Linked DNA regions of Homo sapiens. The protein of the gene in region 1 purifies or fractionates together with the protein of each later gene. This does not show direct contact. Each region holds a gene or a part of one and is shown on either strand. Other genes may lie near its edges.

What was found. The genes of interacting proteins can lie anywhere in the genome.
Region 2: the proteins of LPGAT1 (region 1) and VIPR2 purify together in Homo sapiens (co-immunoprecipitation; one large-scale study listed by IntAct). This does not show direct contact.

The regions. Positions count from the first base shown.
Region 1 is NC_000001.11:211,824,204-211,827,856, forward strand, and holds part of LPGAT1 (acyl-CoA:lysophosphatidylglycerol acyltransferase 1), read right to left. Parts: intron 1-3,653. UniProt on the Homo sapiens protein: Lysophospholipid acyltransferase involved in fatty acyl chain remodeling of glycerophospholipids in the endoplasmic reticulum membrane.
Region 2 is NC_000007.14:159,138,218-159,141,870, reverse strand, and holds part of VIPR2 (vasoactive intestinal polypeptide receptor 2 isoform 1 precursor), read left to right. Parts: intron 1-3,653. UniProt on the Homo sapiens protein: G protein-coupled receptor activated by the neuropeptides vasoactive intestinal peptide (VIP) and pituitary adenylate cyclase-activating polypeptide (ADCYAP1/PACAP).

The DNA.
Region 1 (3,653 bases):
CTGGCCAACATGGTGAAACCTTGTCTCTACTAACAATACAAAATTAGCCGGGCACGGTGGTGGATACCTGTAATCCCAGCTACTCGGGAGGCTGACACATGAGAATCACTTGAACCTGAGAGAGAGAGGTTGTCGTGAGCCAAGACTGTGCCACTGTACTCCAGGCTGGGCAATAGAGTGAGACTGTCTCACAAAAAAATAAAAAAGGATCATTCAAGAACTAGACACTTACTGAGTACTCTGTGAGCATCAGGTAACAAATCAGACCCTAGGGTTATAAGGAAGATCCATCAAGTGGGCCCAGAGTAGGTAAGGATCTCACCCCTACCAGTGATAACAGATTTAAAGTTAAAGCTAGACCACTGACTCCCAGAGTTTTCCAAAATCCCAGTGCTCTTTCCACTAGAACAATGCCTCTCAAATGTTGACTGCACTTATAGTAAAAAATACATTCTGAAGCACCACTCAGTATAAACACATGCATTTCTGATATATTCTATTGAATTCTATTTTATTTCACATTCTTAAAATGTTCATCTTCACATACTAAATTGGTTTTACGGCTCAAAGGTTACAAGACATTGCTCTCGAAATACATTTTTGAAACTTTCCGTAGAATTTCAAAGTCAGAAATAATTCCTAAAAATTACTTTTTGTCACACAATGAATATGTATCCCTCCCCGAAAAGCAGGACACTATCAAATAATCACATAACCCAGAAAGACAGGGCAGCTGTCAGTTGGGGAGCAGGAGGTAACTAAACGTAATCTCCATCAGCTTTCCCTAAAGCCCCCCCCAAATAATGCCCCAATTTAAGGAAAACTGTTTGCTACGTAAAAACAGCTTGGCAGCAAGTCCCCTGGCATTTCAGCTCCCTTCCAGCCAGACTTTGGCCCATGACTCTCTCTCACCCTATATAAAAATAAAAATTCTGGAGTTTCTATTAACAGTAAATATTTTTAAAGTATTTCATGCACAGTCTTCTTTTTTTTTTTTTTTTTTTTTTTTTTGAGACAGGTCTCTGTCGCCCAGATTGGAGTGCAGTGGCATGATCACAGCTCACTGTAACCTCGAACTCCTGGGCTCATGTGATTCTCCCACCTTGGCTTCCCAAGTTGTTAAGATTACAGGCATAAGCCACTGTACCTGGCTAAGACTTTAATTAAATGTGTTTGGATGACAATTCCTTTATTAAAATAAGTAAATGAAAATAAAAATAAACTATTTTAAATAAATAGAATACATTTTGTTTGGTATGAAATCTTTCTCTGACATTTACCAATCATCACTTAAACTCCGGGGGGTGGGGTACTGATTTATCCTAGATCCAAATAAAGCATGCAGAAGTGGATCATTAGTTAAGCTAGTATCTCTTTTGGTTTGCCCTTGAAATATTAAGACAAAGGCAATATAAAGCATTTCCTCAACGTGAGATATCTGTACAGCACTTCCTACTAAAGAAAATGTGAAAACAGGCCAGGGGCGATGGCTCACGCCTATAATCCCAGCACTCTGGGAGGCCAACGTGGGCGGATCACAAGGTCAGGAGTTTGAGACCAGCCTGGCCAACATAGTGAAACCCCCATCTCTACTAAAAATACAAAAATTAGCTGGGTGTGGTGGCACACGCCTGTAGTCCCAGCTACTCAGGAGGCTGAGGCAGGAGAATCGCTTGAACTCGGGAGGCGGAGGTTGCAGTGAGCTGAGACTACACCATTGCACTCTGGCCTGGGCAACAGAGCAAGACTCCATCTCAAAAAAAAAAAGGAAAATGTGAAAACAACAATCATTACTACTTTAGTAGCAAGCCGGGGATGAACAAACCCCAGTGTCTTCAGAGTACTTTTTAAAATGTGTAACTTAAAGTCAGAAACAGACCAGAAAATCCCTTTTCCATCTTCTGTGCCTACAGACAGTTCCCCAGCTCTGAGAATGCAAACTAAAGTATAAGAATGTTCATTTAAGTTCTTGGGCTTACTGGCCTCACCATTACTCATCCAAGAAGCATGTATGAATTTACAGGGCTCATTTTTGTGATGAGTTAAGAGATAGTTTAATAAAACTTTAATAAATCTTCTTGTCTTTCACAAAAAAAATCTGTTTAGAACTAAGGAAAGATTTTTTAATAAAAATAAAATTTAGTTTTCCTAAGAAAAGAAAACCATGCTTACTATATCAGCTTTGTCCAGTAGTACTTGCTGTGATGATAGAAGTGTTCTGTATCTGCACTGTCCATACAGTAGCCACTAGCCACCTAGTACTGAGCACTTGAAATGTGGTTGGTGTGCCTGAGGAGCTAAATGCTAAATTTTATTTCATTTTAATTAATTTAAATTTAAACAGTGACATGCAGCCAGTGGCTACTATATGGGGCTGTGTAGGTTAGATAATCAACATAAGTCCTCATCAGCAGAGCTGAGTAATTCACTCATATTACACGGAATGTCATAATTTGGAAAAAGATATATATATATATATATATTCATTCTATACCAATATACCAATATTCAATTTTTAGCTTCCTAATTAGTATTTAAGGTTTCCTCATAAGTGGTTTCTCAACAAAGTTTTGGCAATTTTTATTCTAAAACATGAACATACTTAATCTGCTGAGCAGAATTCCTTTGGCAATGTTCAATTTTCCATCTGTGAAACTTGGGCATAGGGAAAAAAGAACTTCTTCACAAGCCCACCCTCCTATTGATGTAAAGGGAAGAAGTGAAATATATTATCTAAAGAAAGGCTAATATAACACCTGACATTATTTTATGGGTACACCTGTTCATCAACCTCTGCTTAGATGTGCTTCTTTAAACTCAGCTGAGGCTTTCAACCAAATTCATTCCTACATTTGTTTGACTTCTTGACTATTTTCTTTTATGATCAGACTATGACCAGGCTCTCTGAAATCAAGTATTCTACCTATAGGAAAACCTTTTAAAATATATACATTAAAACAGTCTATATTTAAATGAGACAAACTGATCAAATTGTCAAAATTCAGTAGCCTGAAGAAGAGCAGATGCTTCAGAGAGACTAAAATATGCAGATCATGCCAAGACCACATTCCAAGCAGGTGGCAAAAGAAATTACACAGTTCTATAGTCAGCAAGGAAGAGATACCCCAAGAAAATATGCTGAAAAATACATTGCAGCTATGCTATGGCCATAGGACAACTAACTTTGACTTCAAGCAGCACCACTGCACTCCCAATCTCAAGGTCAATGCCAAATTAATTTTACCTTCCCACCATGCTAACAATTAAATACACTATACACACGCACAAACATTTCAGTAATTTCATTTTAAGCAGAATGAACTTCTAGAACGGGTTTCTGAAAATACTATAAGCTAATTTAAAACAAGCAAACTTAAGTATACTATACAAGAATAAAGCCACTAGTACCATATAACATATATTTGGGAACACTCAAACTATACCAAGCCAAGCAACTCTAAGACAGCAGTGCAATTCAGGTAAGAATTCAGCACCATAGATTAGAACTTCGTTTTTTCTCTACCACTGCTATTGCTACCACCAAGTCCTAAAAAAGGGCTAGAAGCACACCTACTATATCCAAAAAGCATTGGAATCTCAACAAGACAGATGACAAGGAAGCAACGCATACACTATCCCAGGGGCTTCAGCTC
Region 2 (3,653 bases), on another chromosome or scaffold:
CCGGCCTATAAATAGTAGCAAGGCCTTTGTCCCTCAGCTTTCTCTGCTCTTTGTCATGATTTTCTCCTCTTCAAGAAAGAAATTAAATCTGTGTTAAAACAGTCTGTTGTCCTGTAGAGGGCCTCAGATGGTGGGCTTTATTCAAGAATAGCCCTGCCCAGCAGCAACAGAATGCAAGCCACATTACAATGAGTAAAAAGAAGCATGAGAGATTAATTTTAATAGTATCCTTTATTTACCTGAATAAATCTGAATCGTTAACATTTCAACGTATAATCAACCTGAAGTTATTAATTTTGCATTCTTATTTGATGCTAAGTTGTAGAAGTCCAGTGTGTTTTTTGTGCTTACAGCACGACACAGTTTGGGCCCCATTTCAAGGTCCAGTAGCCACAGGCGGCCAGCGGTCTCCACGCTGGACAATGGGCTGTAGATTGTCACTAAAACAGGTGTCCCTGCCCGTTCCCATCCCCCTCTGAGCCACCGTTTCTTGGTCTGAAACGTGCAGGCTCTGCCTCCGAGGCTTCTTCCGGCTGTAAAGATCTGCGATTCCGCGGTGCACGCATGGTTCTGGCCCATCTTCCAGATTGTCTGGTTGAACTCTGTCCAGAGAAAGGCAAATAAAGTAACTTGGCTGAAGCCATGCTGAGAGTCTGTCCTGGGAAATGCTGATGCGGCCCAGGAGATGTGGATGGAGGAGGCAGCCAGTCTGCCACGGCAGAAGCAGCAGCGTGGCCATGGGAGGTCCTTCTTCCAGTGAAAGTTCTGAGTTAGGAAAGGTAGTCCTGAGGAGAGACAGGCTTTTAGGGTTGCCCTCCTCACCTCCAAGTTCCAAATTGTCCAGCTTCCTGTTTTCATGGGATATTAGAAATGCAGATTTATATAAAATATTCCACTTTCTTAAAAGTTTGCAAACAATACATTAAAAAAAAAAGATTTTGAGGGAGCCTGGAGCCATCTGATGGCTCTCTGCACGGTAGCTGGACCCTAGCTTAACCTGAGATTGGCGACGCCTCCTGGAACACCCTCACCCAAAGGCAGGTCAGCACATTTACACTATTCACAGGGGCTCCCCCTCAGTGGGCAGTCCGTGTGTGAGTCATATCGGGCGCTAGGGGCCGCAGGTCCCAGGCAGTCACTCAGCCCCACGCCAGCTTGAGCGGGTTCATATGCAGGCCCGAGAGCCCCTCGCAGGCAGCGTTGGTTGGGAAACTTGTCACTCGGCTTTCTTGCAGCGACAAGGTGTCTACCTGGACATCTCATATTGAAGGCTCTTATTTCCAGTGTCAGCTCTGTAGGAAAAATATCTGTATCTGATCTGTTTTACCTTTTTGACTTGCACGAAGTACTTGGTAACAAGACACTGCCCTTCAGGAGAGAAGCAGCAGCATGCCGGGGCCTCAGCCTGGCCACTCTTTTGTTTTTCTGTACTCTTTGAAATATGCGTGGCTCAAATGCCAGGGATGTAAATAGAAGTAAGTTACCAGAATAAAGATGCTATCAGCGATGTGAACCGGAATCTACAGGCTGAGGCTGAGGCAGGCGTCTGATTAGATGGGCTGAGTGACTCCACGAGACAACAGTGTGCATTTGCACCTGACGCCAGGTGAGATGAGATACTGAGGGTCTGTTACAGCCACTTTTAAATCCATACGATTAAGAAATTTGTGTGAAAGAGTGCCAGAAATGAGGTGAAAAAAATCTAGCTTCCAATTCCAATGAGGTAATTTGTGTAAGTCTGATTTGGAAATGTTTCTCTTTATTACATGTTGAATCTAAAAAAAAAACAAAAACAAAAAAACACGTAAATCCAGACAGAAACCAATTTCAATTCTAAGCTCTCTTACGGGATTCTCTTTGTAAGCTTAGGAGTTATTTGGAGCTGTATGACTTAACATCGATGCATCACTAAGACAAGCTTTCTCTTGCCGATATGTGTATGAGGCACTCCCGGCCTCAGAGCCGAGATCCAGCCCTGTTTCCATGGCCCATGCCAACTCGCAGGTGGAAGGCACAGGTCCCTGAGGGGGCTTTGTCCAGGCTTCCTGCCTAGGCACAGGCTGGATAGGAACTTTCGTGTGACTTTATATCATTCTTACACCCGCGTCTGGAGGGGTGTGACCTCCTCTGGGGAGAAGCAGAGGTGGTCTCTATGTGTTCTGGGAGCTCACTGTTCTGAGACATCCTTCAGAGGCGCATGGCTGAAATGGATCTGACTGTGAATGTCAGCTTAGACCAGGCCATGGAAAGTGCTAGGCTTAAAAACTAACTTTTCTTTGATTTTTTTTAAAACAATGGATGCTGAACTAATTTCGATCTACATGTCAGGAACTATGGAGGGTTTGAGGTCATTCCCCACTTGCAGGCTAACAACGTCGCCTGCCACAGTTTTGCAGATGCTGCAGAAGACGTGAGATGCTGGGCCAGAGACAAGAGACTTGCTGTTCACAGCACAGCAGGCATCATGAGCTGCGTGTGCGCACGGGTTCCCTCTGCTTCTCAAGCCCCCCAGGAGCAGTGGGAGCGGCCCCCTCCGATGCAGTGCATTTGTGTTGTAGCTGAGGAGAACTGGCTTAGGAAACCCCCAGTGTCAAAAGGAGGCTGCTGGCAAATCCCCAGCCTTTGTTACAGAGAGAGATGGTATTGTAATTATCTTAATTATCGAACTCTCCTAGGTTGTTTGCTATACAAACATCCTCAGAAAGAAGGATGACTTATGTCAGAGAAACATATTCTCTATCATACTTGGGGGAATGAACTCCTAAAGCAAGGACTGGTGGCTGCTGAGTAGGATGGAAATGTGCTTCCTTTCCTGTCCCACAGCATCCTGTGACTTTCGTGATCATAACTCACTGTGTGATTTCTTGGTCCTTCTCCTCCAGTGCCCAGAGGAGATGGCATCATGTTTCTGCTGCTTCTCCCAAGTCTCACACAGAACTTAGCATCTAGAGAGATATTTTAAAAGCTTTTGCTGAACAAATTAATGAAAATTCTCACAGTAGAAATTAAGTGATATACATATATATATCTAATATGCACATAGAAAAATTCTGTTCAAAAATGTATATAATGGGAAATGTCTCTACAGACTTCACTGCTGCCAGCCCCAAGTTGCCCCTGGAGAGTTGGGGTGCGCACACGTCCACACGTGGGTAGACCCCGCTTTTCCTTCCAGACACGTGGAAGCTGGCATACTCTTCACACATGTGCTCGGCATCTTGCTTTTCTTTTCTGTTTTGTATTTCAGTGTAACAATGTATTTGGCAACTGTTTTGCATTTGTTCTTATATTCTCTTTAAGAGCTGCTATAGTATTCTAATGTGTTTCTTTAGTCTCTCCCAGGTCCATGGACTTTTAGGTAGCCGACAGTATTTTGCTACTACAAACAATGTTCTAGTGACCGTTTTGTTGGTGGGAATAAAATATTTCACCAGCATTTGAGGGTTAACTTCAAGCCACTCATATAAAATGGGAATCACCATCTCCTATGACCAAATGACACTATTTTAGCCCACTTTCTCATTCCTGTGTCGGTTGTGTCATGTGGGATATGGTTAATCACAACCCATTTTACACCTAACCCCTTCTTGCTTGTTTCTCTTTGTCAGAGGAAACCAGACAGTGTCCACAAATGGGTTCTTGCTCACAGCGTC